Linked DNA regions of Homo sapiens: region 2 is linked to region 1. The links come from fine-mapping of genetic effects on gene expression. A gene starts in region 1. The other region holds a variant in brackets. All regions are shown on one strand. Distances are between the middles of the regions. Region 1 holds the start of PAK6 (p21 (RAC1) activated kinase 6). Region 2 overlaps BUB1B-PAK6 (BUB1B-PAK6 readthrough).

What was found.
Region 2: its variant is fine-mapped to the expression of PAK6 in lung (TOPMed, PIP above 0.99). The same link has a PIP of 0.9 or more in subcutaneous fat.

What each region holds. Positions count from the first base shown.
Region 1 is chr15:40,231,070-40,246,641 of GRCh38, reverse strand. PAK6 (p21 (RAC1) activated kinase 6) reads right to left here and starts at 7,579. Exons shown (of 11, transcript NM_001395430.1): 1 at 6,840-7,579; 2 at 5,961-6,043. The region is part of intron 1 of BUB1B-PAK6 (BUB1B-PAK6 readthrough); the gene reads right to left. LOC107984763 (a long non-coding RNA gene) reads left to right here and starts at 6,941. Exons shown (of 3, transcript XR_001751506.2): 1 at 6,941-7,157. RefSeq lists enhancers at 993-1,494, 3,819-4,318.
Region 2 is chr15:40,258,573-40,274,144 of GRCh38, reverse strand. BUB1B-PAK6 (BUB1B-PAK6 readthrough) reads right to left here. Exons shown (of 10, transcript NM_001128629.3): 3 at 9,156-9,364; 4 at 7,650-8,303; 5 at 1,424-1,921; 6 at 1,146-1,279; 7 at 673-799; 8 at 469-594; 9 at 1-3. The coding sequence starts at 9,359. It overlaps PAK6 (p21 (RAC1) activated kinase 6), which reads right to left. Exons shown (of 11, transcript NM_001395430.1): 4 at 9,156-9,364; 5 at 7,650-8,303; 6 at 1,424-1,921; 7 at 1,146-1,279; 8 at 673-799; 9 at 469-594; 10 at 1-3. The coding sequence starts at 9,359. Among named protein-coding and RNA genes, the nearest start is that of PAK6-AS1, 13 kb to the right of the region's middle. RefSeq lists enhancers at 1-208, 930-1,431. The variant A/T (reference allele first, on the strand shown) is at 7,142.

The sequences.
Region 1 (15,572 bases):
AGTGGCTGGTACAACAGCCTCTGCTAGGATGATGGACCTCATCATCCATGAGGCAGCCCCTCCTCCTGTCCTGACCACCCTCTCCTCGACAGGAGCCCTGAATGCCTGCTCACTGGCGGCCTTGCATTCTTCCCCCGGGGCTGGCTCCATCCCTCCCCAGGAGCTGAGACCTCTACTTCTCCCCACCTTTCTGGATCCCAGACACATCATCAGCAAGATCCACTCTAGTGGAATAGAAAAAGTCTTCTTGTCTAGCTTGGGCCTGGTGACCGGTGGCAAGTGACAGGCCTCCTGCTTCTGGGAACTGACCTCTGATGGTGGCTATTGGACATGTAAATGTCTGCCTGGGGTCAAAAGTCTACACTAATGAGAAGATCACCTGAAGAACAGGGCCTCCCAGGTGCCTCCCCTACCCTTTGCCCCAGAATCTCCGTTTCATCTCTGGCACTCATCATGACTCCCTTCTTTGGCCTAAGACATGAAGTTACCTGGGACAAAAAGAACTTCAATCAATCAATTTATAAATTAGTTAGATCTCTTCAACAGAGAGTGGCCTGGTCCCCAAGAGTGGCCTGGGTGCTGTGTGCAAAGTTTATCCTCGGGAAGCACTTGACTGACAAGCGTGGGCTGGGCTGTGGTTTCAGGTCTAGCAGAATGCAGGGGGATGGCAGGAGGCACCCAAATAGCACAATAGGAGCAAAGCGGGGACCTGCCCAGCCTCCCAATGTGTCAGGCCAGGCCGCCTCTCCCAAGCCATCAAGTTACCCAGTGGCTGCTGCCTGCTCCTGCATGGGCCCCTTGGTAGCACGGGGGTGGGGGTTCAGCCTGGGTAGCAAGAGTGCTGGGCAGGCAGCTGGGGATCCCTGGGCTGGAAACTGACTCTGCCATTAGTTAGCTGTGTGGCCTCAGGACCCACTTTCCTTCTCTGGACCTCTGTTTCCCGCTCTAAAATTATGGGGGCTGGACGAAACATCCTCCGGGGACTCCCTTTGGCTTGAATGTGCTACAGCAATCTGAGATGGCCAGCTCTTTCCTGGGGCAGCCTTTTCCTCCTCAGAGCTCCTCTTTGCTGATCTGAGACTGTGCTCTGGTGGTGCAGGAGGCTGTGGCATAACTGGTCCCCTCGCTCCCTCCACCCTCTGTGCTTTCTTGCACAATTCCATAAGCTGAAAGAAAGAAAATGGAGGCTAGAGCCTCTCCAGGCCAGGAAGCTGAGCCACAGAACCAGTCCTCCCGGTTTTAAAGTTTTAACTCTGCTGCTGCTGCTGCAGCCTTTAGGAGTCCTGGTCACCAGGCAGGCAGGCAGGCAGCAGGAGGTCTTGGGCAAGGTGACTGGTTTGTTGCTATCTGCACTGAGTTGAGTAGGCTGGTCCCCGCTGCACTGGGATCAGAGATCAAAATACAGCACCAGCTGAACTGAGCTTTCTGAACCTGCTTCCCTGGACACCCAGAGGATCCCTCACCAGGTCCTTGACAGCCTGAAGGACACAGCTCTGCTTCCAGCCCCTTAGCAAGAGGCCCAAAGAGCTGAGTGCATGGAGGCTGTGGGCAGACCAGAGCACAAGAGATTGTTGCCTAGGCAGAGAGACACTGGGATTGGCTGACCGAGGCAGCACTTTTGGGGAATAGGTTGCCACGGAGAATCCACAGGTGTCAAAAAAAGTCATCACTGGCCCTATGTGAATACTTGGGTCTCTGCCCTGCCTGATGTGTCGTGATGAGGTTTTGTAGGAAATGCTGGCCAGCAGAGGTGTCCCTTTGCTGGGGCTGAGGCAGTTGCGGCCTCTCATGTAGTTATGAGGGAACCTGTTTTTTCACATGTGAGTTCCCCCAGCCCAAGAAAGCCTGTCATGCTCTGGGGTTGCCTTGTTTTTCTTAGGTGAATAAGCTTTAGGATTACCTTTCCTAAATTCATAGAACAGATAATCCTTTGTAGAAAAAGCAGGCTGGGTGTGGTGGCTCACATCTGTAATCCCAGCACTTTGGGAGGCTGAGGTCGGCGGATCACCTGAGGTCAGGAGTTCGAGACTAGCCTGGCCAACATAGTGAAACCCCATCTCTACTAAAAATACAAAAATCAGCCGGGCATGGTGGTGGGTGCTTGTAATCCCACCTACTTGGGAGGCTGAGGCAGGAGAATCGCTTGAACCAGGGAGGCGGAGGTTGCAGAGAGCCAAGATCGTGCCACTGCACTCCAGCCTGGGCAACAAGAGCGAAACTCTGTCTCAAAAAAAAAAATAAAAAGAAAAAAAGAGAAAACAAAAGTCTCTGAGATGGAACCTCACGATTACTGGCCTTTTTTTTTTTTTTTTGAGACAGAGTCTTGCTCTGTGGCCAGGCTGGAGTGCAGTGGCACGATCCCAGCTCACTACAACCTCCGCCTCCTGGGTTCAAGCGATTCCCCTGCCTCAGCCTCCCGGGTAGCTGGGACTACAGGCACGCGCCACCACGTCCAGCTAATTTTTTGTATTTTTTAGTAGAGACGGGGTTCACCATGTTGGCCAGGATGGTCTGGATCTCTTGATCTTGTGATCTGCCTACCTCAGCCTCCCAAAGTGCTGGGATTACAGGCGTGAGCCACTGCACCTTGCCCACGATTACTAGGCATTTCTAAGCTACTTGCCAGAGTGATCCAGGAGCCTGCCGTGGCCTTGTCTGGCCCCTCTGCCTGCCACATCACCAAGTGTATGCTTTAGATGGGGCTCAGCAGAACACAGTTCCTCATGCAGTTAGGACCAGCATGTGAAAAAAGCTTCCAGTCCCCAAAAGGAGTAGGGCCAGGGCCACAGCCCGGCTCTCGATCCCTTCACTAGGGGCAGCCCACTTCAAGTCCTCAAGACCTCCAAGTCTAGACCCCAGAAAGAGGAGTCTCAAGTTATTCCTTAGAAAGCCTCAGTGGACAAACAATATGCTATTTGGGAAAAAAATAGACCTGGCATTATTGTTTCTTCCCAGCTTTCCTGGGCATTCTGAGAGCTTTTGTTTCTCCTCAGAGGAGGGTTCTTTCAAAGTCACCTCCTCCGTGAAGCCTTTCCTGATTCCCCCGAACAAGGTATGGTCTCTCCTGGCACTTTGTTCCTCTGACACCAGTTATCATCACGGTGATAATAGTTATCTCTTGCTGAACATGTACGTATGTGCCAGTCATGCCATTCAGAGCATTCACTTATTATCTTATTTAATCCTCTCAACAACCCTAACTCATAGGTACTATAATTATCTCTGTTGGACAGGAGAGGAAATTGAGACCCAGAGACATGAAGTAACTTGCCCGAGTCACCAGGAAGAGGCAGCACCGGGCCTGAGGCTCATGCTGCTGACTTCATGTTAACCAACCACCATCCTGCCTCTTCCCGCCCTGGTCTATCTCCCCGAGCCTTCACCTCCTCCTGCAACTGCAGATAGAAGCTGCTTCTTCCTTTGTTTGTCATTCTCAACTTATCTTTTTTGTCCATCTTTATAAAGTTCTATGTTAAGAACCGTTGCCCAGTATTGGTGTAAATTTATAAATTATCTGGGCTGGATGGGTCATGGCTGCCAACTTCAGCGATGAGTTGGACCCAGAGTTGGCAAAAGGACGAAGCCACCTGGGGGCTGATGGTGGCTTTGTGGCTCCGCTTGTTTCTGGCGCGGTTGGCCCCACGCTCAGCTCAGCTTTCCTTTCCACTGCTCTGCTGCAGGGCTATGAGCATCCCCAGGGCAAGAGCTCTGTCCTGCTTTGTCCACCCCCTCTTCCTGCCACCAGTGCTTGCACCTAGTAGTCAGGCCATGGCTGTCATCTGCTTGGCAGCCTGTGCGCCAGAACAAGGTGCTGCCTGGACCCCACACCCTCCCAGGAAGAGACACGGTCCCCTTTATCTCACATCTCACTCTTCTCGCTTTAGCCCTTCCTGGCCCCTAGGGCTGAGCTCTGGTGGGGTGGAGGGCACCTCCTCAGAAGGGGACAACTTCCCAGGCCCAGGCAGACTGCTCGCCCTGGGCAGGAGGGCCAGCCTTGGCTTCAGCAAGTTCAGAACTCATTCTGCCCTCAGAAGCTTCCATTTGCAATGCTCCTCCCCAACCTGCTGGCTAGTCCACCTCTTTCTACCAAGGAGGCTCCCAGAAATAAGCTCTCTCCTTGAGGCCCGGTAGGTGCAGGCGGCCAGATGCCTCCTGATGAGCTTTACTGGTGTCCTTCCTGCTGCTCAGGTCTCAGGCACTGCTTCCGCAGCCTGGGCCTTCCTGCTCAGGGCGACGAGCGCATCTTACGGGAAGGACTTTCTGCTTCAGTCCACAGGACAGCCTCCCATGAGTCCTTCCTGCCTTCTGCACCCAGGACACTGTGTGCGGTGGGCATCTCTGGGCCATTTGGGTGAGGAATTCAATCTTTCAGTGTCTTAGCCTCTTCCCTGCCCAGTCACCTACGCAGAGGGCCTCTCCCACAGAAGCGGGCTGGCATAAGAAGGCCAGCTGTCTGGAGTCCTCCCTGAGCCCTCAGGACCCCAGGCAGCCTTTTCCTTTCCTGCTCAGCCTGCCCTGGCCCCTACTCTCTGCTCCCTCCTGGCCCAACCTGCTGCCCGCTGCTGGCCTGCTGTCTACCTAGTGCTCGACAGCCTCCGCCCCTCTGACCCCAACTGGGCAGCAGCCCCTGCTCAGCTCTGCATGCATGGAAGACTCCTAGGCACAGAGTCACCTTTTGTGAGGCAGCATGAGATACCCCCACAGCTGGGTCATTCTCCTCATCCAGGAGCCAGGTGTGGGAATTCACTGGCATGAGAGACACTTATGGGTTCCTCCTGACTCTGAGCACATGTGCTCCTCCAGGGCAGGGGACTTTTTGGTCATCCTTAGGAGTTGTGCACAGAGCGGGCTTTCCTTGGCTGGAGACCCCACCCACTGCACCCTCCCTGTGTCTGGCAAGTCCGGGAGGGCCCAGAGCACTCACAAAGCATCAGTTTGTCCTCGGGGCACTGGAGAGGCCGTGCAGTCCCCACACTCCCCCTCTCAGGTGCACAGAGCTTCCATCCAAATCAGCTGCTCCCAGAAGGGCTTGCCTCTGGTGCCGACCCTTCCCTGACCAGGCGCTCTGTCACTAGGGCTCCCAGGTGCCACCTCCAAGCCTGGGCCAGGACAACCGCCAGGGAAGCCTGCCTGCAGAGGGGACTCCTTGCTTGCCCCAAAGGCCTCAACCCCAGCTAGATGAGCTCCCGTGGGGCTGAGTCCCAGGCCCACCAGGCCTGGGGGCCACACGGCTCCTAAGCTCATCCTCTCCTCCTGCAGCCCAGTTCCCACCAGAACCAGCCTCAGGAAGACCCCAGGCAGAACGGCACAAACCTCTTGGTGTACAATGCCAGGGAAAGGATAACTGGAGACCACAAGACGTTAGCCTTGCTTCCCGGTGGGGCCCAGTGCTTTATAAACCCGAGCTCACTGGGCCCGATGTCCCCAAAGCTGACCAGGTCATCCACCCTGCAGCAGGGGTGGGGAGACCAAGGCCTGTGAGGAGTGACCGTGCTTGGCCAGGCAGCTCCCTGAACCTGCCCTGATGCTGAGTTTCAGAGTCAGAATCTGTGCCAGGTCAAACCCAGCCAAAGGGTGTGACTTGGAGCCTGGGACCCAGCAGTGCTCCCTAAATATTTGTGGAATGAATACACAAGGGAAATGTCCCAGAGGTGGTAAAGTGAGAGGGGCCTTGGATAGGGGTGTCCCGGTGGCACTGGCTTGGCCCAGCTGGGGCAGGAAGAGTAGAAACAAGCACCTCTCCCTCTAGCTAGGGAGCCAGAGACCAGCTGGGATTGGACTGTTTCACAATCAATCTGGAAAGAAGGTGGCAGGCCGGGTGGGGAGTGGAGCCCCTTGACCCAGGAACCCACAGCTGTGGAGTTAGCCTCCCTGTCCCAGGTGGGAGGCAGCCTGGACACCTTGGCACCCCCGTCCCTAGCCCAGGAATCCGGAGCACGCAGCGGCAGTGGGGACCTTACCGTGGCTGCTCCTTCTGGGCAGCGGGGTCCTGCGTTCTCCACTGCAGGCTGGTGCTTGTCTCTAGCCCAGGAAGCGGCACTCCCTTCAGGCAAAATAGAAAAAAAAAAAAAAAAAAAAAGGAAAAGAAAACCTCAGTGCTTTTCTCACCCAGCCTCTTCTCTTGAAGGCTCCTGGTTGGTATTGTCCTGCCACTGTGGGCACACAGCCTCCCTCCCTCTGGCAGCTTACTCACTGGTGCCCGCAAAGCTGCCAGCTGTGTGGGGGAGAAGGGACCTCCCCCCTCCTCCTGACACACACTGGGGCATGCCCTGTGGGGACCAGGGGCTTGAGGGTGGCACCCGCTGGGTCCTGATCATGGGGAAGCCGTACCCTGGCCAGCACCCTTCTCACTGAATGTGTCCCTGTGAGCTCAGCAGAGACGCACATGGGTGCTGACTGGCCCTGCATAAGAGAGTGACATGGTTCTTGGTAGGAAGCTGTTTCCTTGGTACCCAGGCCTGCCAGAATGAAGGGGCAGCTGATGGGCTGTCCAGCCCCCCAGTGATGGGCTCTCACCCTGGCCAGCCCCTCCGGACGGCTTCCTACCTGGGCATCTTGCTGTGTCTCTGTCCTGTGCACCCAGACAGGGCCTGGGCCTGCCGGGGCTGGCAGCTGCTCCTCACCCTGCTCAGGCCGTGTGTCTGGCGTCCCCTCTCCCTGACGCCCATCTCAGGGCCTGCGCCCACCCAGCATCAGTTAGGATAAACTCCTGTCAAGCCCCCAGCCAGCTCTCTGCTGGACCCAGCTGCTGTCCCCAGCAGGGGGACGGCACACACACTGGCTTACACACTCTCGCACTCACACACACGTGGGTCCACACCCAACACAGAGCCACCTACCTGCCCAGGCCAGCCTAAGCCAATCCAGCCTCGCTCTCCAAATGCCACTCCGACCCCAGAAGCCACTCCTTTACCGAAACATCCCCGTGGGAGATGAGTTCAGAGCCAGCCCGGGAGGACTCCAGTCAGCTCGGACAAGACTGCCCTTCTGTCCCAACACCTCCAGAGGACACACACAGGCAGCCTGACCACCATATCTGCTATTGCACTCTGCCTGCTGCCACAGCCCCCCGGGCACTTCTGGCCCCCACAGCGTCTTCCATATCTTTAGGGGGTGGCAGCAGACTCACAGCAAGTCCCATCTTCCTGGAGCCCAAGGTAGGGAGGGGAGAGCTAGAAGGGGCGGGACTCAGGTGCAGCTCCAAGTTTCCAGCTCCCAAAATAATCAGATGCAAAGGAGAAGCAAGAACAGCTCGAGGCGGGCGGTGACTCAGTGCTAGTGGGCCGGCTTAGTCACCTGGATGGCTGCTGGCGGCTCCTGGCACATCAGGACGGGAGCAGCGCCCTCCCCCACCTGCCTGGACCGTGGCTGTCTCCAGAGTGTGGCCGCCGAGCCCCGCGCCCAGGGCTGCCTGGCAGGCGAGGCCGCTCCACCCCGCTCCCGCCCATCAGGGCCCAGCGGCCCCGGCTGCGGCGCGCCCCTCCTCCACCGCGCGCCCCGGCTCACTTTGGGATTTCTCCATTAAATCCTCAGGCATCGACCTGCTCGTTTGGGGCGCCGAGCTGCTCCAACGTTGCTTGGCAATTTTGATATCGTCGGGGGTTGCCATGGGGAGGAAGGTGATGTCATTGACACAAAAAACCCACTGAATTTACAAATCAGCTGGGGCTGGAGCTATTTATAAAAACACGTTTTTATCTGCCTTTCTTTGCTGAAGGGGAGGAGGAGGAAGGGCTGCCTGCCGGGCTCAGGGTGAGCCTCCCTGCTGTCCTTCCTACCCTTGCCCTAGAGAAGCCAGACCTCCTTGGCTCACCCCCACCCCCACCCCCCAGAACTTGGAGCTGCGCATTCAGATCTGGCAGGTGCTGGTCTCAGCTGGTTTTGCTTCGAAGGCTGAGAGTGGCACATGGGATGTAAGGCAGGGTGGGTGCTGGCTTCCTGGGCTGGCAGGGACCAGAAACCAGTTACTCAACCGGGTCCCTTTATTTCATTGCCCCTGGTCAGAAACAGAGGCATTTGCTGGTGAGGCAGCTTGAGCTCCTTGATGTGCCCCCCTGCCAGCTCCCCGGAGCGCCAGGTGGAGCCCAGCCTTCCACAGTGCCCTCCCCATCCCTAGCCTCAGTGTCTCCTCCACTGGCTTCTTTTCTTCTCCTAGTGTCCAATCGTGGGCTGCCCAAGCTCCAGGCTTGGTCCCCTGCTCATCTCTCCCCACACTCAGCCACCACTCCATCAAAACACCTTTTTTCTGTGGCTTTGACCATCACCTGGGCAAATGCTTGCCCGAAAACCCATTTTGTGCCTGCCCCACTTCAGGCGCCACCTCTGATGGCCCAGCTCCCACTGCCAGGACCCACTAGCTATTGACAGCCAGAGGGAAGCCTGGGAGTTCTTGCCTCTTCCCGTCCCCCAGTCCCTTATATCCAAGGTGGCACTTGGCTCTACATTTTATTTTTGAAAACTTTCTAACTTTCTTCTGTAGCGAAGCCATGTGGTGTTTGGTTAAAAGTCCAGGCTGTGAGTCTTCAGTCTTCCGCATCTCAGCTCCACTGTTCATCAGTTGAGTGACCTTTGGCATGTTATTGAACCAATTGAACTTCAATTTCCTCATCCATAAAATGGGGATGATTTCACCTGCCTCACAGGGCTGTGGAAATTAAAGGAATAAAGTTTCTGGCACAGAGACTGCTCATCTTGATCCCAATAAACATTAGTTTTTATCCACCCCTCCACTGATGGCAGATTAATCTTCCCAAATCATGACCCTAGGCACCTTCTGTGCAAAGGTCTCAAGCTGCATGCGTAGACATTTTGATTGAACGCAGTGTTAGATGTCATGGCATTAAACATAAGAATTTCAATTTGTGGCCAGGCACAGTGGCTCACGCCTGTAATCCCAGCACTTTGAGAGGCTGAGGCGGGTGGACCATGAGGTCAAGAGATTGAGACCAGCCTGGCCAACATGGTGAAACCTCATTCCACTAAAAATACAAAAATTAGCTGGGCGTGGTGGCACATGCCTGTAATCCCAGCTACTTGGGAGGCTGAGGCAGGAGAATTGCTTGAACCCGGGAGGCGGAGGTTGCAGTGAGCCAAGATTGTGCCACTGCACTTCAGCCTGCGCGACAGAGCGAGACTCTGTCTCAAAAGAAAAAAAAAGTTCAATTTGTGGTCAATATGAAACATTTTCCCTTTAACTAGGTTATCAGTTCCTTTTGGAGAGGAACTCTGTATTTTTCTTCTTTTTGTATCTCAATGTAATTTTGTGTGTAAACTTATAAATAATCCACTTCTGCTCTGTCTCACTAAGGAATGATCCAGGAAATGCAAACTAAAACAAAAGGGATATACCACTCCCTGTCATTATACAGTGAAAAAAAAATGGCAGGTGGGAGAGTGAATTGGTACAGTCTTCTTGGAGGGCAATTTTACAGTCTTGACCAAAATTTCAAAATGTGTATGTACTTGATCCAGCAAATGCACTTCTAGGAATCCAAGTTAAGAAATAGTTGCACATCGGCCTGAAGATATTTGTATAAGAATATTCATGGTAGCACTGTTTGTAACTGCAAAGAATTTGAAGCCACCAAAATGTGCATCAATTGGGCAGATTAATTGGGTGACAGATCTATACAGGATGGTACATCCCCATGCAATGAAGTATCTGCAGCCTTAAAATGAATGAGTTTTGTCAGTCGGTATGTATGTACCAGCTATGTGTGTACCGGTATGCATGTACATACGTATGTATGAGGAAGGATGACCACGATAGTTGAGCAAAAAGACCAGGTTTATCAATGTTAACTTGAAAATGAGATGGCATAATCTCATATAAGTTTTTTTATTTAAAGATATTTCTATATCTGTATGTTTAAACCGCAAACTGTCAATGTGGTTATCCTTGGAAATAGGAGTGGTGGTGAGAGGGGTCTTTCACTTTGGACTTTTTACACTCTTGCATTGTTTCAGTGAACATGTACTGTTGTATTTAAACAATACAAAAGTAAAAATAAAGGAATGTATGTTTTTAAAACTAATAATAGGCCAGACGCAGTGGCACACGCCTGTAATCCCAGCACTTTGGGAGGCCGAGGTGGGTGGATCACCTGACGTCAGGAGTTCGAGACCAGCCTGGCCAACATGGCGAAACCCCGTCTCTACTAAGAATACAAAAATTAGCTGGGTGTGGTGGTGGGCACCTGTAATCTCAGCTACTCAGGAGGCTGAGGCGGAGAATTGCTCGAACCCGGGAGGTGGAGATTGCAGTGAGCAGACTGTGCCATTGCATTCCAGCCTGGGCAACAGAGCGAGACTCAGTCTCAAAACAAACAAACAAACAAACAAACAAACCCTAATAATAGAAAACCAAGAGCTATGAAGAGTACCTAAAACTTGTATATTTGAACATTTTCCTCTGCAAAGTCCACTTTAAGGCAATGTGGGGATATGGAAAACACTTTTTCTTCCTTCATGTCTTTCAAATTTTCAGAAATGTTGTTAGAGGGAGGGGCAACATGAAGATGTGAAGGCACTAAGGCAGGAGATAGAGTTTATTACGTTAAATTCAAAACACTATCATCTTATTCAGATAATAATTACAATGACTCTCTTTAAGAAATGTAACATTTCTAAGTTTCTGCCAGTTTATGAGAAGCAGGCGGAAATTCCTGAAGAAACATCAACAATTTCATAAATCAAGAAAAATCATGTTTTCCAGATTTCTGCTATAGTAGCTAGCAGAGATAATAGCCATTTCATGAAAGGAACTGAGAACTAAACAAACCAGCTCTCCTGAATCTGCATCAGTCAGGTTCTCTGTTAGCCTGGAGAATCAAGTCCAGGACAGAAGCTATGGCAGTCCTGGGGTCTCTAAGCAACAGGACTGACTGCAGTCCCACAGATCACCCCTGCCTGGATGAGAGATGCTCCCACCATGCTGTCCACCTAGTGCATCCTTGCAGGGAAGGAGTCTGATTGGCTGGCTCAGGTCATATGCCTGTCTCTCAGGGAGGGTATCCTGGAGAGAGTGCTTCTGTTATCACACGATATAGGGAGGAAAGTTAGGGTGCTGTTACTAAACCAAAGGGGAATGGGTGCTGGAGACCAAAGGGGACCAGCCAATGATTGCCACAGCATCTTTGCCTCTTTTTCTAATTATTTTCAATTCCTGAGTGTGATAATCAGCCACTGTTGATATTCGATTCCTGTCTTGTGAAACTGATGGCCTGTGCAAACTGAGACCAGTTCCTCTATTCTATCATGTTTCTTGACTTCCTGATTTGATGAGAGGATCTGCAAATTTAGAACCATTTTTTCCACAGGCTGTAGAAAGGGGGGCTCCACCGGCCTGCAAAGGTATGGCTGCTGCTGCAGTGGGCAGGCCAGCAGATGCCTGTGTTTTTGGGCCAGTGGTCGGCCCTGGTGCTTAGCACATGGCAGGTGCTCATGTAAACTTTGTTGAAGGAATGAATGAACATCTTTAGAGGTTCTGTGCTCTAGCCACCCTCCTTAGAATGCGTGAATCCCAGAGCTGAAAGGCACTCTAGGGATATCAGCCCTGTCCCTCCTTCTACAGGTGAGAAAACCACAGCCCCAAGAGATTAGGTGACTCAGCAAAGCCTCAGAGAAAATTAAAGGCAGTCAGGAACTCAGCTGTTCCTCCTCACAGATCCATGAAGTTCCCTTTGCTGCCGACGGCAGCCCCATGCTAGCAGCAAGCTCTGAGTGTGACAGATCTGTAATTTGGACAAAGGCAGTGGTGGTGCTGTCACCACAGACATTTCTGCCTTTGAATCTTGGCTCCCAGGGATTTGCAGCCGCATGAATCAGTCAAGCCAGTGTCCTTACAATTTCTTAAAGTCTTTTACTGTGTTTTTGTTAATGGACATATACAGTACTTGCAGTCTCAAAAGTAATTTGCCTCACCTGCACCGTTTTGGTGAGTTGGATTCAGCTGGAACAACTGTTTATATCAACCTTGTCCCACTGCATGGTTTTAAAGAAACCATCTGGGGATGTGTTTGGAAAGGCCATGTAGCAATGAAGTTCTAAAAATTTTCATAAACTAGTGCTTCCCAAGTTTTCCTAAAGAATAATAAAAACTTTTAGAAACAAAGCCTAGGGCTCCAGTGTGTGGGTAAAATTCCTTTGCTGCCAAATTTTTCTAGATCTTTAGATGCTTCCCCACACTCCACACCCGCTTGTGCTGCATGTACAGAGGGTGCCTCACTCAGGCCTTCTGATGGGCCTGTCTCCACCCACCTACACTAGTCAGCGCCTCTCACCGCAGGGCCAGGAAGGGAGGAACAGATTCTGTTCTCCTTCCTTCCCACCATCCCAAGCCAGGGCAGGTTCCGGAAAGGAAGGGCTTGATTAATGAGCAGGTGTTGCCACTGAAGGCCTGTATATCCCACACTCCAGAGCTGGTCTTACCTTGGCGGCACTCGTCAGCCCTGCGCCTCCGGGAGAGCTAGGCCAGAAGCAGGGGCTCTACCTTCAAGAGATTTTTCTCAAGCTCCTTCCTTGGCAGGGAGGGTACAGAGGAACAGACGCTTCCTGGACATCTGCCTGCTCCCAAAGTATTGGCAGCAAAGTGGGGGATGACTAGGTCAAGTCCTGGGGTCCTCAGTGGGAAGGAAGTTTCAGGGCCTTGTCAGATAGGTCCCTTGCATGCCCTCCCCTGTGGCCCTGCTCCAGCTGTCCTCCTGTGGGCAAGGTGTGTGGAGGATGCTGGCAGGGGCCAAGGGTGGGCACAGTCAGTGACAAGAGACTCAAGTGGCCAACGTCAGCAGACAGCCGGAGAGGGTAGCAGGTGGGCAACATTTGGCAAGGTCTTCCCTTTTTACCCAATCTCTAGTCACAATGCTACACAAGATATGAGGGAGGGGAGCACAGGCCAGAATCTCATCAATATTAGAAGTGGCCCTGGCAAGCGACTCTGCTGTTGACTTCCAGAACAGTTTTCCCTCAGGAAAACGGGTTTTCAGGCTGGGCGTGGTGGCTCGTGCCTTAATCCTGGCACTTTGGGAGGCCAAGGCGGGAGGATTGCTGGAGTCCAGGAATTCGAGACCAGCCTAGGCAACAGTGAGACCTCGTCTCACAAAAAATAAAATTAGCCAGGCATGGTGGTGCACATCTGTAGTCCCATCTACTTGGGAGGTTGAGGCTGCAGTGAGCTGAGATTTGGCCATTGCACTCCAGCCTGGGCAACAGACCTCGTCTCACAAAAAATAAAATTAGCCAGGCATGGTGGTGCACATCTGTAGTCCCATCTACGTGGGAGGTTGAGGCTGCAGTGAGCTGAGATTTGGCCATTGCACTCCAGCCTGGGCAACACAGTGAGACCCTCTCTCTCGAAAAAAAAGAAGAGGGGTTTTCAAGTAAGTGAACAGGGAATGAAATTCTTTTTGCCAGGAACAGGTGTATGGAATTGTGAAAATACTTAAAAGATGGGGGTGGCAGCAGCTGAAAACCCTTTTATGTGAAGTCTCCAACGAGTCAGGCATAGTACATCTAGGCTCTTTCCATCTGTGATTCCATGGAATTCTTAAAACACCATGAAGTAGTTATCATTACCCCAAGTTCTACAGATAAGGAGTCTGAGGCTCAATGCATTTACACATCTTGTCCCAAATCAGGAAGTGGCAACGCCCTGGCTTTCCTTGTGACACCAAATGGCTGAGGCAGGAACTCACTGGGAGCTTTGACTTGACTTGTTTCTGGGTGACTGAACAGATGGCTGAGAGGGAGCCACTCAATCAGGGTCTGGCCACAGCCTGCCGTGACAGGGGCTGTGGGTACTGCTGCAAGGGATGTGCCTCCCTTTGTGCTGGCTGGACGGAGGCCTACACCTCAGTCGGGAGTCAGCTCTCAATCGCCAAAGGCTCAGTGGCTGGCAGCAGGCCCGGCAGAGGCCTAGCCTGTGGATGAGCCTTTCCCGGGAGCAGCCCCTATGGGAGGGGCTGGCCCATCTCTGTCAGAGCAGGAAAAGTGGGTGACTACCAAAGACTGGCTGGGACTACACTAGGGATAGGACCAAAATTAAAATCCTTTTGTCAGTGAAAGCGTCACCCCTGCAGACCCTGACCAGATGACCTTAGGAGTGGGGCTGGTCCAAGGGGCATCTGGGGCTTGACTCTGAGGAGTTAATGGCAAAGTGAGGAGCTGCCCAGAAGCCAGTCTGAGCAGAGCTGCAAACTGTAGAGTCCCAAGTCCTGGACTCACAAGTGTGTCCTCTTTCTGGCATATGATGGGATGGGCCTCTGCCATCTCAGCCCCAGCCCACCAGGAGCAGAGTCTTCTTGATACACCTGTTTCTAGGACTGCTGCTAAGCCTGGTGGCATAGGTAGTGCAAAGGAGCCAGAAGACACCCCAGGGGTCCCCAGCCCCTGGGCTGTGGACTGGTACTGGTCTGTGGCCTGATAGGAACCGGGCTGCATAGTAGGAGGTGAGCAGCAGGCAAGCATGCATTACTGCCTGAGCTCTGCCTCCTGCAAGGGGCATTAGATTTTCATAGGCATGCGAACACTATTGTGAACTACGCATGCAAGGGATCTAGGTTGAGAATTTAGTTTCACCCCGAAACCATCCCCCACCATCCCCCATCTGTGGAAAAACTGTCTTTCATGCGACTGGTCCCTGGTGCCAGAAAGATTGGGGACCACTCAAAGAGGGTTCCAAAGGTCTCTACAAAGCCTGCAGTGAAACACTATTTTTTTGAGCACATACTTTAGATTATGTGCTGTGCTGAACCCTTGCCATACACTAACTCATTTAATCCTCACAATACAATTAACCCATTCAACAAATATCTACCGAGTACCTGCTAGGTACAATGCTTTCTGCTAGGTGCTGGGGAGAACTCAGTGAGCAAGATGAGACCCTGTCCCCATGAAATTTATAATCTGGGTAGGAACCATTATAATCCCATTTCAGAGATGATGCAACTAAGGCATTGTGGTGTTAACTTACTTACTCAGGTCATTAAATGACAAGACATGGGTTTGAACCCAGGCGATCCGTTTCAGAGTTTAGGATGCTATTGTGTTACCAAATCCTTCCTTTCTCCTTCCCAACAACATTACCTATATAGCAGACACTTGCTTGCTTTTTAAGAAAAAATAAAATAAAAAATGAGGTCTTTCTCTGTCACACAGGCTGGAGTGTATTGGTGCCATCATAGCTCACAGTAACCTCAAACTCCTGGGATCAACTGATCCTCCCACCTCAGCCTCGTGAGTAGCTGGGATTACAGGTGTGAACCACCATGCCCAGCTTGGTTGCCTTTCTAAATCCATCTCACCACCCTTGCTGGAAGAAACCCAATTTATTAGAATGTACACTCCTCTCCTAACTGTGTACCCAGCGAAAGGCCCCTCCCCAGCCCCAGCCCTTAGGGGTGAATCTTAAGTTTAAACCAATCTTGGTAACGCCCTTCCCTTTGCCAGGGATTGGTGTAGGCTCACATATGTGACAATCTGGCCAAGAGACACGCGAGGAAGCCAGCTGGGAGGGTTTTGGGAGAAAGTTTTCTTATGCTGCTCCAAGTTGTTCAGGAACTTGGAACTGTGGTAGC
Region 2 (15,572 bases), 28 kb before region 1:
CACCTGCAGGAGGAAAATGTCCCTGACCCCATGGCCAGACCCTGGCCCATTGGTAGCTGCGTTCTGGTGGCAGCAGTGGTGGAGGGGGGACAGCTGGCCCCAGCTCTCCTTGGTGGGTCTGTCTCCTTCCTCCCCTGGTCACCTGCCCTGTGGCCAGTTACTGCCTGCATGAGTGACCACTGCCTATAGGGACACAGCTGTCAGTCACTCAGAGAAAGGCCATCATACATAGGAGGCCCGGCCATACCCCATTCTGCCCTTGAGCTGAGGAAAGCACTTGCAGGACTCGTTCCTGGCAGCAAAGTCACTGGGTAAGAGCAGCCCCATCGAAAGGGGGAAGGGTGTTGACTAGGTGGGACTCTGAAAACCAGGGCTGCTTTTGGTGAGCTCACTGGAGGGGCCACAGCAGAAGAGCTGCCAGTTGCCAAGTTGCTTTTGGGAGGTCTGGGGGGTGGAGGGAACGGTTACCTCAGTGGCATACAAAGACCTGGAGATCACTTCAGGAGCCATCCAGTAGGGGGTTCCCACCAGGGACTTCCTCTTAGGGACGTCTTTGCTGATCTGAGCACAGAATCCGAAGTCCGAGAGCTTCACCTGCGGTTGAAAAGGGAGTGAGTGGTGGATCAGGAGGAAGTGGGAGCGTGGCTGTGCCAGGGACAGGATGGGACCTACCCTGCCATCGAGGGTCAGCAGGATGGAGTCACTCTTGATGTCCCGGTGGATGACACCCTGAGCATGCAGGTAGGCCAGGGCCTGCAGCACAGCCTCACACACAGTGGCAATCTGCTCCTCATTCAGCCTGGACAGGAAGGTGGGGCCACCCGATGAAAGAGAACGTTAGCTCTGGCAGGTCGTGGGGTGGCTGAGCAGAGTAGGAGTCCCTGGTGCTAGGCCCCACAGCTCCCAGGCAATCTGTTTGGCAGCACAGTCAGGCCATAGCCCTGGTGAAAACTGGGGCCTGAGCTTTGGCTAGAAGCTATCCTTCTCTTCTCCACTCCCAAGACCCCTGGGTCTCAGTTACCCCAGCAGGCAGGGGAGCCCAGGCATCCCAAGTCTTCTGGGCCACAGGCAGAAGACCACATTGCCCTGGCAGGGCCATGGTGAGGGCAGCCTGCACTCAGGGTCCAGCCCTCCCAGCTGCCCACCTGACTTGGGAGACGATGTCTGTGAGGGCTCCTCCCTGCAGGAACTCCATGAGCACCCACAGCTCCTCGCCCACCAGGTAGCTCTTGTACATCTCCACCACGTTGAAGTGCTGGTAGTCCCGCATGATCACCACCTGGGGGCAGGCGGGGGCCTGAGTGCCAGGCACAGTGCCCAGACGCATGGCCACCCACTGCCCCTGCTCACAGATGTCCAGCCTGGCTGGCTGCTCACTGCCCATCCCCAACGCCCCCGTCTGTGTCCCACCCTGTCCTCCCACCTCGTTGAAGAGCAGCTCCCTGCGCTGCTGCTTCCTGAGGTCCATCATCTTGACGGCCACCTGGCGGCCCGAGTGCTTCTCCCGGGCCAAGCAGACGATGCCGGTGGAGCCCTCGCCAATCTTCACGTAGCTGTCCAGCAGCAGCCGGGGGTCACCCTGGTCCACCACCATCCTGAGCGCAGCCTTGAACTGCTCATGTGTCACAACACCTGTGTCCTCACCAGCCAGGGCACCCTTGGCAACCGTGGGGTCCTGGGGCAGGTACAGGTTGCTGGTGCTGATCTGGGCGTGCCAGGTGCGGGGGGATCCCGCTGGGGAAGACCGGCCTGGAAGCTGGCCTGTGGCCGGGGCTGTGCGGAGGGACTTCTGGGGGCTGCTGGTATCCGAAGTGGTCAGAGGGCTGAAGGTCCCCACCGGCTGGTCCGAGGGCAAGGACTGGGCCTTGGCCACCAGGCTTGGGGGGTTGTCTTTCTGCGGCGGTCGGAAAGAGGAGTTGGGCTGCAGGGACAAAGCAACAGGAAGGGTCAGGGCTGTGGGAGCATTTGGAATAACCTTCCCGGAGGCAGGGGCTGGCCGCCGTGACCTCTGGACTCTGGCAGGGTCAGGCGGGGTATCAGATCAAACTAGGGAGGTGCTCTGAGCAAAGATTTTCAGACAGAGCTGAAGCCCAGTCACAGTCCTGTGCCAGCAGTCCCCCGCAGGGCACCAGGCTGGGCAGGCCCAAGACAGCTCCTTACACTCGCTCTGCTGCACCTGGGAAGACAGAGAAGGCCAGCTCCCCGCCGGGTCCTGCGCTGGGTATTTCTTCCTGGGCGATTGACAGCTAGACCCCAGGGAGGCTGCCGTGAGGCAGACTCTTCCTCTGAGCTCAGAGGCTGCTTGAAGAATCTGGGTCAGAGGCATTCTTCACTCCCAAGGCTCCCCCACCCCAGGACCCATGGGGGCAGAAGAGGCCTGGCAGTGGGGTGGGGAGCAGTGGGCAACTGTGTCTCCACTCCCTGAACCAAGGCAGGGGAGCCACACCTGGGGCCCGATAGCCCTGCCTGTGCCTGCAGCAGGGAGTTTGCAAATCTGTGCTGGGAGGTTATGTCCCTGACAGAGGACCACAGAGGTGTGTCACCATCTGGGGGGTTCTCAGGTGTCTCCCCTGGGCTGGGAATCTGGTGCCAGAGAGATCTGGAGTTAGGAGGGTAGGTCCAGCCAAACCCAAGCCTTGAGGCCAGGGATGGGGAGATGTCTTAAGGACCCCCTAAAGGAGTCCTTCCACTTCCTCCCTGGCATGAAACTCCTGGCTAAGGAGCCCCCGGGAGGGAGGAGAAGGTAGGGGGCCTATCCTCATTGGCTCTGGCAGGGAGGGAGGAAGGGAAGGTGGAGCTGAGGGGCAGCCTGGGCCCCCAGTGAGCCCTGCTCAGGCCCAGCCCTGGAAGCCTGCGAGGCTTCTTGCTTTTCCGAGCCCAAGCCCTTCTGCTCTTTCTGACAGGAAAGGTGCCCGCCCATCTTTGGGTTCTCCCCAAGGAGCGGTGATATGCACCATGACCCCTCCCAGGGATTACGTGTTTTTAAAGGGCACCTGGAGAGGGATGCTTCAGGGGATGCAGAAAAAGCCTTCTAGGAACTTCTCCAAACCCATCATGTAAGCCATTGTCTTAGGTGCCCAGTGGGTCCTGGTCCTGATCCCATAGCTGAAACAACTTACAGGAAATCTCAAGCAGTAAGTTTGGGCTGGGATGCTTGCTCAGGGACCCCAAACCCCAAATCTGGGCCTTGGGCCCCACCAGAGTCTTTTCAGTGTCTTTGGCAACCCTCACTCCCTTCCTTCCCCGACCCCCCGCAGCTTCAGGGCTTCTACTCTCCAGCCAAGTCCCTGGCCTGCTTAGGGTGGAATAGGCACTCCTGCTGGCCGACAGCCATGCTGGGGCAGACTTCTGCCACCCCCACACCTGCCTGCCCACCCGAGTGTGTGCTTGACCTTCACAGGAAAGAAGCTAGCAATCCTCCCAGGACTGCCTGGACTCACTCCATCCCTGATGAGTACATTTGGACAGTAAACATTCTCCCATGTCCTCGCCAGCACCTGACTGTCACCATCCACTGTGACACTGTGACACTGTCACCATCCACTGTGTAGTGGAGCAGTGGGACCCCTGGACTGGGCTGTCAGGACCTGGGGCCCAGCCCTGGGCTGCTCTGCCCTGTGATGAGCCTTAGGCAAGTCATCCTCTCTGAGCCTGTCTCCACTACAATGCAGGGACGTGTGCAGAGATCTGGGGAGCTAGAGAAACCGCAGACTTCCCGCCTCAGAGCCTGATTCGGTGGGAGCCTAGAGCAGAGACTGCATTTGAACAAGGTCCCTGGGTCCTAGGAGGCCCATGGAACATACTTTGAGAAACTCTGCATAAGTGGGCAGTATGATCTTACGGCCTCAGGGAGCCTCTGGGAGGGCTGTGAGGGGGGTGGAGGGCGCATGGCCATGACTGAGGCTGTGATACCAGGTCCTGGGAACAGAGGTTCCATGAGACGTCACCAGGCAGGGACAGGGAGGGAAGTGGGGCAGGGCTCACTGCATCACACAGTCAACCTGTAGAAAGGCTCGGGGCTCTAAGGAAGCTGCCTGCTGGCCTGAGTGTGGACTTAACTCAGAAAACATGCTCTCCAGGCACCCATCCAGGTGGGTCGGGGCAGAAGCTTGGGGACCACCTAAAGCTCCTCCTGAGGTGGCTCTGATGACCTCTCATCCTGAAGCTCCTAAGAAAGGCTGTAAAATGAGATCATTCCCCTCCTGGCCTTGAGGGCTTCTGCATGGGCCAGCTCTACTCTGAGGATGTGTGGGTACCACGTGGACAGGCTGAGGTAGGGGTTTCTTCCCTGTCTCCACAGGCCAGGTCCCTGTGCTGCTGCTGCTGCTGCAGGTGCTGGCTGGGCTCAGGGCGGAGCCTGCGTCTGGAGGCTGGGGGAGGGATGGCCCAGCCAGGAGCCCAGCACAAGCAGAGTCTGGGACATAGGCTGGGGAGTCTGGGGAGCTGGCTTGGTCTTCAGCCTGGCAAGGTCTGGTCTCTAGCATCCTTTCGTTGGCTTCACTGCCTGTCTCCACAGGGAGGGAGCTTTTATCAATGTAATCACAAGCAAGGACCAGATGAAACTTGTGAGGCCACACAAGAAAGGGAAAGGGGGACACGACAACAGAATTAATTAATTGTTACAGGCTCTGGATTAATTCTGAAGTTACTCATGTGATAGACCTCTTGGGAAGAAAGCCACTAGAAGAGTCATGCATACATTTACAGCAATGCCTCATTTCCCGCCCTGAGCCATGGCTCCCCAGCTGTGGGCTTAGGGGGCTATACCTTAAGTATCCTAAAGGGGAGAGGCCATGGCATAATATTTTTAAAAATAATAAAGCCGGCCTGGCATGGTGGCTCAGGTGCCTGTAATCCCAGCACTTTGGGAGGCCAAGGCAGGTGGATCACTTGAGGTCAGGAGTTCAAGACCAGCCTGGGCAACATGGTGAAACCCCATCTCTTCTAAAAATACAAAAATTAGTTGGGTATGGTGGAGCGTGCCTGTAATCCCAGCTACTTGGGAGGCTAAGGTGGGAGGATCACTTGAACCCAGGAGGTGGAGGTTGCAGTGAGCCAAGATTGTGCCACTGCACTCCAGCCTGGGCGAAAGAGGGAGACGCCATCTCAAATACTACTAATAAAGCCATTTATTGAGGGCTTACCACTTTGACAAGTGCCTTCAACGTACTATCTCATGTAATCCTCATAACCCTGTGGGTTGTTTGGTTGTCCTGTAGGCACTGGAACCCGCAGGACGCCCGTGGCTGCTGACTCCCATGCTGCAATCCCACTGGTGCCATGTATCCTTGACATATATCGGAGTACACGGTAGGTGCTTAACCAATGTTTGCCCTTCTGACTCTAAGTGGAACATGTCTAATCCCTGCAAGCTCCTAAAAAACTGTCTTGCCTCTTTGGTCTCTGTGCCCCCACGCCCTGTCTTCCTGATCTCTTTAGCTAGAGTGACTCCAGGCCTCACTGCCTGGGGCTAGGTACAGGAGCCCTGGAGTCTATACTCAGACCCTCCTGCAGCCATGCCTGGCACACTGCATGGCCTCTGTGGCCTAACTGCTGTTATGGAAGCTGCTGCAAGTGTCCAGAGTCAGCCCCAGTGCCAAGGGCTGCTGGCTTGATCTGGGGACTCCTGGGGTAGGTGGTGGTGGAGGAGGAGGAGGAAGGCTGATGCTCCCCATCTGTTATTGAATTTGCTTAAGGCAGTGGTTCTTAATGGGTGTGCTCGAGTGACATTTGGCAGTGTCTGGAGGCATTTTTGGTTATTCCAACCGAGGGTACCACCAACTTCTAGTGAGTAGAGGCCAGGGAGGCTGCTACAGTGCAAGGAGAGCCCACCACAAAGGATGGACTGACCTGAGCGCCTGCAGTGAGGACGCTGAGAAGCCCCGGCCCGGAGCAGCTCGGGGGGTCTCAGCTTGCCATTGAGAGGCTTGGCTTCAGAGTAGAAATCTTGAAAGATGTGTCTGAGTTGCCCAGAAGGAAACCACTCCCCTGGATTTGGAAGTATGGTGTTGCTGAGCTCGAGATAACTACCGCCTGCTCCCACAAGTATGGGGGACATCCCGGCATACCCAGCAGCAGTGGCCCATGGTGAGTACTCAGTACATTGTGCAGGGATGGACAGGCCTCTCCCCCTGCTGTGGGGTGCTGGCAGGAGCCCAGAAAGATGCAAATGAGTGCCCAGCCCAGTGTTGACAACCCCTTTCTCCAAATCCCTGAGGCCTCGCAGCAGGACTCCTGAGAGACAGAGGGAGGTCAAGCTCCGAATCTCACCTTCCCAGCAGGGTGCACTGTCCTGATCTTACGTTGGTTTTCTGGCTGAGTCTCCCCAGGGGCACAGCCTTCCAGACACCCTGCAGCTCACAGATGCTCGTGTTCCTCTCACAGATACATCAAGCCACAACCCATGGGGATCCCAACCCACTGTCCTTTAACCTAGTAGGGGACTAGAGTGCACAAAGCTCAGAACTTTCTCTTTTTTTTTTGAGACGGAGTCTCGCTCTGTCTGTCCCCCAGGCTGGAGTGCAGTGGTGCGATCTCAGCTCACGGCAAGCTCTGCCTCCCGGGTTCACGCCATTCTCCTGCCTCAGCCTCCTGAGTAGCTTGGACTACAGGCGCCCGCCACCGCGCCCGGCTAATTTTTTTTGTATTTTTAGTAGAGACGGGGTTTCACCGTGTTAGCGAGGATGGTCTCGATCTCCTGACCTCGTGACCCATCCACCTTGGCCTCCCAAAGTGCTGGGACTACAGACGTGAGCCACCACGCGCGGCCGCCCAGAACTTTCTCTGAGTACCTCAGCTGGCAGGCAGTGACCCAGAGAGGTTGTAGTCCGGGTCATCCCCAAACCCACACCCTGTGCAGGCTGGGCCACACTCACCCCACCGATGACAGGGGAGTACCCAGGCTTGTCTTAAAGCCCTCCCAGGAGGGAGGGGAGGCTCCATTACCCATGCCACTGTCAGCAGCCGTTTCTTAGGACTGCCTTTGACCCTCCCAGGAAGGAGCTAAAGAACAAGTGGCTGCTGTGCTTGTAAAGCCTTCATACGCAAGAGTCATGAGCCAAGAGGGCCCGGGCCGGACAGGCAGCCCCAGAGCACTCCCCACCTTCCTTCTCTGACTCACTCTCCATCATGCCTGGGGGTG[A/T]CTCACCCTCTCTCTATCAGTCTCCTCCTCTGCCAAATGGGAAAAGAGGTTACTGTCACTATCAACAGGATGCTGGAGGGCCTGGAAGAAGCAAAAAGGTGCGCTCCACTCTGCCTGCCAAGAAATGTCACCACGGGGGCTCCCTTCACCCTTTCCTTTCTCACAAGAAAAATGTGCGTCTGAAGCAGTCACACATGCCACAAGTCGGCCTCCTGCTGCCCCTGGACTAGGCAAATCCAGCTTTTCCTATGGCCACACACTTGGGAACAAATACTGACAGAAATGGGAAACAACACAACAGCCACAGAGAAAAGAAGGAAAGGAAGGGAGGGAAGGAGGAGGCGAGCCACCCTCCTTAGAGAAGAGGTTACCGTGCACATTTCTGCCGCCTTAGGCGGAAGCAGTCCAGGGAGCCTCTTTGCCAGTCCTCCAAGGGGAAGGCTAGGCAAGGCCTGTGTCCCTACACCCACTCCCCAGTGGACACCTGCAGGCCAGGCTCCTGACTTACCTTGCTCTGTGGTGGAGGGCCTGGCTTGCTGCTGCTTGGAGGGGCTGTGGCAGCAGTGGACAGGAACATGCTTCGGAATAGCCTGCGCTTCAGGCTGCTCTCCCGGGTCTTAGGGCTAGGGCTGCCTTCCCCACCTGGCCTGCCTGTGGCTGAGCCCACCAGGCAGGACTGTGGCCGGGCCTCCTCAGAGCCATGCTTGGCAGCCTTCATTCCATGCCTATTGGTGCCCGTGGGGGGCGAGGCTCCTGGTGGGGAGCTCTGCAGGCAGGCACCCAGCTGCAGACAGCGCTGCGAGGCACCCTGAAACTCGGCGGGGCCCAGGGACTGTGCCTTTGCAGCCAGCCCATTGGGCAGGACCCGTGGGCTCTGTGGCTCGGGCCACGGCATCTGCTTGTGGCCTGCTGGTGTGCCCCCGTTGCAGCTGAGGTAGAGGCCGTGGGGGTCAGTGCGCTCAGACTGGGGGCTCTGGAGGTACATGTCTGGGTCGGTGGCCCAGTGCTCATCCCCCAGCAGCCCCAGGGACTGTGCCCGCCGCCGGCTGGTGGGGCTGCGGCCACGCAGGGTGTTGGAGCTGATGACTGACAACTTCTGGATGTCGTTGAGCAGCCCCGAGATGTAGCCATCCACAGGCATCGCGCTGCCCCGCACCACTGTCTGTAGGGGGAAGAGAAAAGAGTGTGTGGGAGCTGCCCAATTGTGGCAGGGAGGGGTGGCTGGGAGATCAGGGTCAGAGAATGTCCCTGGGGGCCCTGGGGAGGACCACCTAAGGACCTTCCCTGCTGTGTCATCCACCCATTAATTTTTCCATAATTTATCAGGGCCCACCGTGGGTCCCGCCTGTGCTGGATGCAGGGATGCGGGGAGAAGGCCCAGCGTCAGCAGAGCAGATGGTGAGTGCCATGGGGCTGCATCCAGCATGCCCAGGGGTGTGGTCGGCTGGGCCAGGGAGCTGGAGCTCAGGGGGCGGGGCTCCATTCTCTAGCTCCACGGGTGGCTGGGAGAGATGTGCCCAGCCCTCTGAGGAAGAGACACCAGGCCGGGGGCTCCTCCACACACACTGGCTTCGCAGCCTCCAAACCCTGATAGGGCCCCTGACCCCACCTTCTACCAGGCTCTTGGGTCTACTAGTCGTGACCCTCACAACTAAAATTCTCCTGGTCTGGGAGAGCCCTCAGTCCCTATGGGGCTGCAGGTCCAAATATTGAATGGGACACGTCCTAAAAGACTATTCGTTGTCATCTGAAATACAAATGCAATTGAGCATCTCACATTTTCATGTGCTGAATCTGGCAACCCCACCACCCTGCAGAGAGGGTCTCCCCAGCCTCCTTCGCCCTGGCTTACCCAGGGAGAGAATGGCAGGCTGACAGGCAGGGAGTTAAAACAGCTGATTAACTGATAGCTGTGAAGTAGGTGGTTCCTCCAGGGGCCTTTCTGAGGTTTAGCCAGGCATGGTTGTCTGAGTACTGGGAGAGGCTGAACCTCATCCCTGCCGGCCCCTCTTACCTTCATGGGCTGGAGCTGCACCCGTGTGATTCGCGAAGGGTCCACCACGGGCTTGGGGCGCCGCAGTGTGTCCAGGATGTTCTGCCATTGTGGGGGGAGGCCCACAAACTTGCCTTCTTTGGGGTCGAAGGAGGTGTGGACACGGTGCTGGAAGTTCTGTGGCGCTGAGATCTCAGGGCGTTTCTTCTTTTTCTTGCGGAACATGGTGCCTGTAAGTGCAGAGTAAGGTTGAGCTCCCTCCCGGGAAAGAGGGGTGGCTGCAGCAGGGCCTGGGGCACCAGGTTCAGGGCTCCCTCCCCTCCCCCAGCACAGCTCCCCTAGAAGCCTAGGGCTTCCCTCCACCTCCATCTCTGCTTCCTCAGGGAAATGGCTGGCTCCCAGCAGAACAGTCCCAGAAACAACAAACGTGCCATAAATAAGCCAGTGCAGACTATAAACAAGGAAAAGAGGTGTCTTCTTGCCTGTGCCAAGTCCCCTATGGAGCAGGCAGACTCTGGGGGTGTGTTTTTATAAAATCCAAAGCCCATTACAAGTATCATTCCACTGTCTGTCAACGAATTTTAAAAATGGGGAAAGAGGGAGGAAAGTTAGCAAGCTTGTTTTATGAAACGAGTATGACCTTGATTCTTAAAACCAGATAAGGAGAGTGCAAGAAAAGGAAAATTTGACTCAATATCATTTAGGAACGTAACTATGAAAATCTTAAAACTATCGAATTGAATCCAACAGTATATTAAAGTTATTTTTTTGTTGGCTTTTTTTTTTTATTACAACTCAGCTTTGTCCCAGGATGGTTGAACCTGTTAATATGATACGTTAATAAAAAGCCAACCAGCTGATCACAGACATGCTGCCCGGTGTGGGACTATTATGTATCAGGGAGCCCCCAAAGGGCCTTCATGGTTACCATGTGCTTTACCTCAATTCCAGAAAGGCCCTGAGCCAAGAGGATAGCCTGGGGTGGGTGAGGGGCAGCTAACTTAGGGGTAAAGCTCTCCAGAGAAGGCAGAGAGCACCACCTCCCCTTGACACTCTTCTCTCTGGTATTGGAGCTCTATGTAAAACATCACCTGGGCCGGGCATGGTGGTTCATGCCTGTAATCCTAGTACTCTGGGAGGCCGAGGCGGGTGGATCACCTGAGGTCAGGAGTTTGAGACCAGCTTGGCCAACATGGTGAAAACCTGTCTTGACTAAAAATACAAAGAAATTAGCCGGGCCTGGTGGCACGTGCCTGTAGTCCCGGATACCCATGGGGTTGAGGGAGGAGAATCGCTTGAACCCAGGAGGCTGAGGCTGCAGTGAGCTGAGATTGCCCCACTGCACTCCAGCCTGGGCAACAGAATGAGACTCTGTCTCAAAAAACAAACAATAAAACACTTAACCTGCAATCAAGCCTGTGTCCCGTGCCTTGCTGATTCTGGCTTTGCCTAAGGTCGTGCTGAGCTGCATACACAGAAGTGACACAGGCTTGCAATGGATAGCATGGGTAGATCTGAGAGTGGGGAACTGGGGGCCTGGGAAGGGGAGGGACACTTCCAAAGGGTTGCTCTAGTTTCGCCTTCAGGGGATCCCGGACCTGGGATCACATGTTGATGGCAGACAGGGCCAGGGCTGCCTCTTGAATGCTTTTGGATCTGAAGAGGCTCAGAACAGCTCACTGGGTTCTTATGTATCTGAAAAGGTCACTTCCAGGCTTCAAGAAACTGAAACATGATTCTTGAACTGAAAGCTTGGATTACTCATCCGCCCGAAGATCTGGAGTGCAGGGCCGTCATGTTCTCTTTTGGCTCTTGCTATGGAAACAGCATTTTCCTAGTCATTTTGGCAGGTTCTGAAGGAGGTCGCAGATCTGGGAGGCAGCTGGCAGAAAGGCAGGGACCCTGGACAGCCAGTGGTTCCCCACTAGGAATTCACCATGCGTGACTCAATCAGAGCCCACGTCACATCTCAATGTCAGCCATGCTTCTGGGTCTTGAGGTTCGGGATCCACCGAACACCCCCTAGAGGTAGAGCCACATGTACAGGACCCTTACAGACCAAGCCCTTTGGAATAAAACAACCTGTGTGAGTTGCAGATGAGTTGTAGGGAGTCTCCCACTAATAATTTGGAGAGATTTTGAACAAATAACTGAAATGATCTGAGCCAGGGGGGTTAATGAAAGACAGCTCATAGGGTTTAGGGTGTGTGAAGTAAGCAGAGTCCCCATACATGACGGTTGTTTCTCTTGTGATGTCACCTCTCTTTGAATCCCTGTCTTGAAGCTCAGGCCCTCCAGACACTGGCACTTGGGCAGATACAAGTCTGGGAGTAACACCAAACCACTTTCTGCTCAGACTTACCAGTCAAAGGGGTCATGCCTGATGTCAGGGGTCTGGGACCTGGGGACCTCGCCATATATACATCATGGTTTGGTAAAATTTGTCCTCCTCCTTTTGGCCTTTGCCTTTTTTGTTGTTGTTTGTTGTTGTTGTTGTTGTTTTTGAGAAGGAGTCTTGCCGCCCTGTCGCCCAGACTGGAGTGTAGTGGCACCATCTGGGCTCACTGCAACCTCCACCTCCCGGGTTCAAGTGATTCTCTTGCCTCAGCCTCCTGAATAGCTGAGATTACAGGCACCCACCAACATACCCGGCTAATTTTTGTATTTTTAGTAGAGACGGGATTTCACCATGTTGGCCAGGCTGGTCTCGAACTTCTGACTTCAAATGATCCACCTGCCTTGGTCTCCCAAAGTGCTGGGATTACAGCCTTTGCCTTTTGCTACAGAAGAGTCTTTATTCAGCAGGTCTATTCCCCCAGTCCCTTGGATAGACCTGCTATCCCTGGATTAGTTGAGCTGCCTGTTTCGCCCTCCTCCCTAGCTCTGTGAAATCTTCTGGAGGTGCAGGGACACAGACTGCAGCTGAAGAAGAGCTGGTGAATCCGCCCCCCACCACCCACCCCAGAACAGCCCTCTCCCCAACTCCCCTGCCCCACCCAAGCGCTCAGCTTTTGCTGTGGGGATGCACAGGGAGAGCATCTTTAGCAAATGGTCTCTGACTCTGGGAGCCTCTCTTGAGTCCATTCTAATAGTGAGCCATTCCGGAACAAGTTCTTCCCAGAGGCAGCAGGGAGGCTGGAGAAGAAAGAAGGACAGCCCAGAGGGTGTCCCAGGGCCAGGAGTGGTGATGGTGAGGGTGGGAGTTGGCAGAAGCAATCAGCTGAGCTCAGGCTTTGGGGGCTAGGGAGTAGAGCTTTAGAAACCAGAGGCCATCACTTAGGTCTGGAAAATCAACCAATCAACCACCTAAAGGGAGGCAGCTAGGACTCATCTGAAATGTGGTGAGGCCAACACTGTGTGGGACAACATAACTGTGTAAGTAGAAAATGCGGGAGAATCTACATAAAACTGGGATTAAGGGAGTGAATTTAGAAGGTCCCTGATTCAAGGTCAATATATATATATATATTTTTTGAGATGGAGTCTCGCTGTCTTGCCCGGGCTGGAGTGCAGTGGTGTGATCTCAGCTCACTGCAATCTCTGCCTCCCGGGTTCAAGTGATTCTCCTGCCTTAGCCTACTGAGTAGCTGGGACTACAGGCGCACGCCATCACGCCCAGCTAATTTTTGTATTTTTAGTAGAGATGGGGTTTCACCATGTTGGCCAGGATGGTCTCGATCTCTTGACTTCATGATCCACCCGCCTCAGCCTCCCAAAGTGCTGGGATTACAGGCATGAGCCACCGTGCCCAGGCTCAAGGTCAATATTTTAAAAAATCAACTGGATTTCTACATACCAGTAACAACATGAAATTTTTAAAAAGGGCCAGGCGCGGTGGCTCACGCCTGTAATCCCAGCACTTTGGGAGGCCGAGGTGGGCGAATCACGAGGTCAGGAGATAGAGATCATCCTGGCTAACACGGTGAAACCCCGTCTCTACTAAAACTACAAAACATTAGCCGGGTGTGGTGGTGGGCACCTGTAGTCCCAGCTACTCAGGAGGCTGAGGCAGGAGAATGGCGTGAACCTGGGAGGCGGAGCTTGCAGTGAGCTGAGATCAGGCCACTGCATTCCAGCCTGGGCGACAGAGCGAGACTCTGTCTCAAAAAAAAAAATGAAATTTTTAAAAAGATATCATTTTACATTAAAAATACAAAATATCTAGAATAAATCTAACAAAAAAATACAAAGTCCTTATATTGGAAAATACAAAACATTATTAAAGATATTAAAGAATGTTCATAGATGAGAAGGTTCAATACTGTAAAGATGTCAATTATTCCCAAGTTAACCTGCAGATTAATTTAAATCTCAAACAAAATCCCAGCATATTTCCTTTGGTAGAAATTGATGAACTGATTCTAAAATGTATACAGAAATATAAAGAACCAGGAATAGCCAAGACAATCTTAATGAACGAAGTTGGAGGATTGTACTAAATAGATATTAAGATTTATTAGAAAGCTACAATAATTAATTTAGTATGGAATTGGCAAATAGGCAATAGGCAAATAGGCAAAAATTGGCAAATTTAGTACGGAATTGACAAATAGACCAATGGAACAGAAGAGAGAATCCAAAAATAGACCCACTCTTATGAGGTCATTTGATTAATGACAAAGGTGACCCTGCAACATGCTGGGGGAATGGATGATGTTTTTAATAAATGTAGCTGAAGTAATTTGATATCTGCATGGAAAAAAAATAAACCCGGAAGAATGAGCTCATATCATACTCCAAAATTATGCAGACAGATCACAAACCTCAATGTGAAAGGTAAAATAATAAAGCTGGTGGGAGTGACGGCGGGTACCCGTAGCCTGACTCTCACCTCCCTCAGGTCTAGTGTGATCATTATGAGGGGCCCGATTTGGTGGTCTCTCCTGGATCCCACGACCTGCTGGGGCCTAAACCTGTCCACAGTCATGGGTCCCAGACACAAATTAAACTATCAAGGTTTACTTTGGCGAAAGTGGAATTCTTGATGATATAGATTAGGGGTAGGGGGTTTTTAAAGATTTTGCCAATGGTAATTTGTCAATGCAGTGTGAATACAATGGCTATTTGAAGGAAATACATCAACATATTAGTTGTCCCATTTACCTGGTGGGGCTACAGGTGATCTCCTTCTATTCTATCTTTCTACTCTTTTTCTAAGTTTTCCTTAAAGACGACGGATTGCTTCTCTAAAAAAAAACAATTTTTTTTTTTTTTTTTTTTTTTTGAGACAGCGTTTCACTCTGTTGCCCAGGCTGGAGTACAGTGGTGCGATCTTGGCTCACTGCAACCTCTGCCTTCCAGGTTCAAGTGATTCTCCTGCCTCAGCCTCCCAAGTAGCTGAGACTATAGGTGTGCACCACCACGTCCGGCTAATTTTTGTATTTTTAGTAGAGATAGGGTTTCACCATGTTGGCTGGGCTGATCTTGAACTCCTGACCTCAGGTGATCCACCCGCCTTCAGCCTCCCAAAGTGCTGGGATTACAGGCGTGAGCCACCGCGTCCGGCCAAAAACAAAATATTTTTAAATACAGAGAAGAGTGATCCATGGAGGCTGAGTGCCTAAGAGACGTTCATCCACCTGAACGGGACCAGTGTTGCCCCAGTCATCGCGAGTGAATCACCCAGGACAAAACATGCCCTGCCTCTCCCCAGCATCAGGCTGTGTCCTCAGAGCACTCCCACCCGGTCAGCCAGGGCCTCCGCTTGCCATTTCCAGGGCTCCTTTTCCCATCCATGTCTCCAAGGCCACTGGGCTGAGGGAGGTGGCTGCTGCACCAGCCATGGGGCCCCAAGGTTAAGTCAAACAGGCCATGCCAGCTGTTACTGTCGCCCCTCTAGCATCTCCATCTGCACGCAATTCATCTAGGGGAGGAGCTTTCCTCCAAGAAGACACCAGGAGGAGGAAGGAAGGGGACTCCCCCTCAGAGAGCCAGACCCTGCCGTTTCTCCTGCCCAGCTTGAAAGAAGTGATGTGAGCCTAAGACCCTGAAGTGGAAACAAGCAGAACGGGGTGGCCAGCTCGGGCACAGCCCCAGCCCCTCCTGGCTGACACTTCGCCTTAACACAGGGGAGGGAGGCCACACTGAAGATTCCACCTCAGGCTGGAAAGGCACTGCCGTGTGTGAGGACTGCTTTGAACTTTTCTCTTCTGGATGTCTGCAGGCATCTTCCTGCTGGCTAACGCATGACTGCATCGGGGGATGCCCAAGGCCTGGGAGGGAAGGGTCCAGCCCAAACCAGTTCAAGAAGGAAGCTCCCCTGCTGTGGGGCTTCCTCCAGCCGGAGCCTGGCCAGTGGGGACCGACGGTTCCTGGCACACACTTTCTGGAGGAAATGCTGCTACCCCCAGTAAACCTGAGGGCGGAGCTGGTGGACAGTTCAAGGAGCTATGTACCTGGGGTCACTGAGGGGCGGGACAGTGGTGTTGGAGGAGCAGC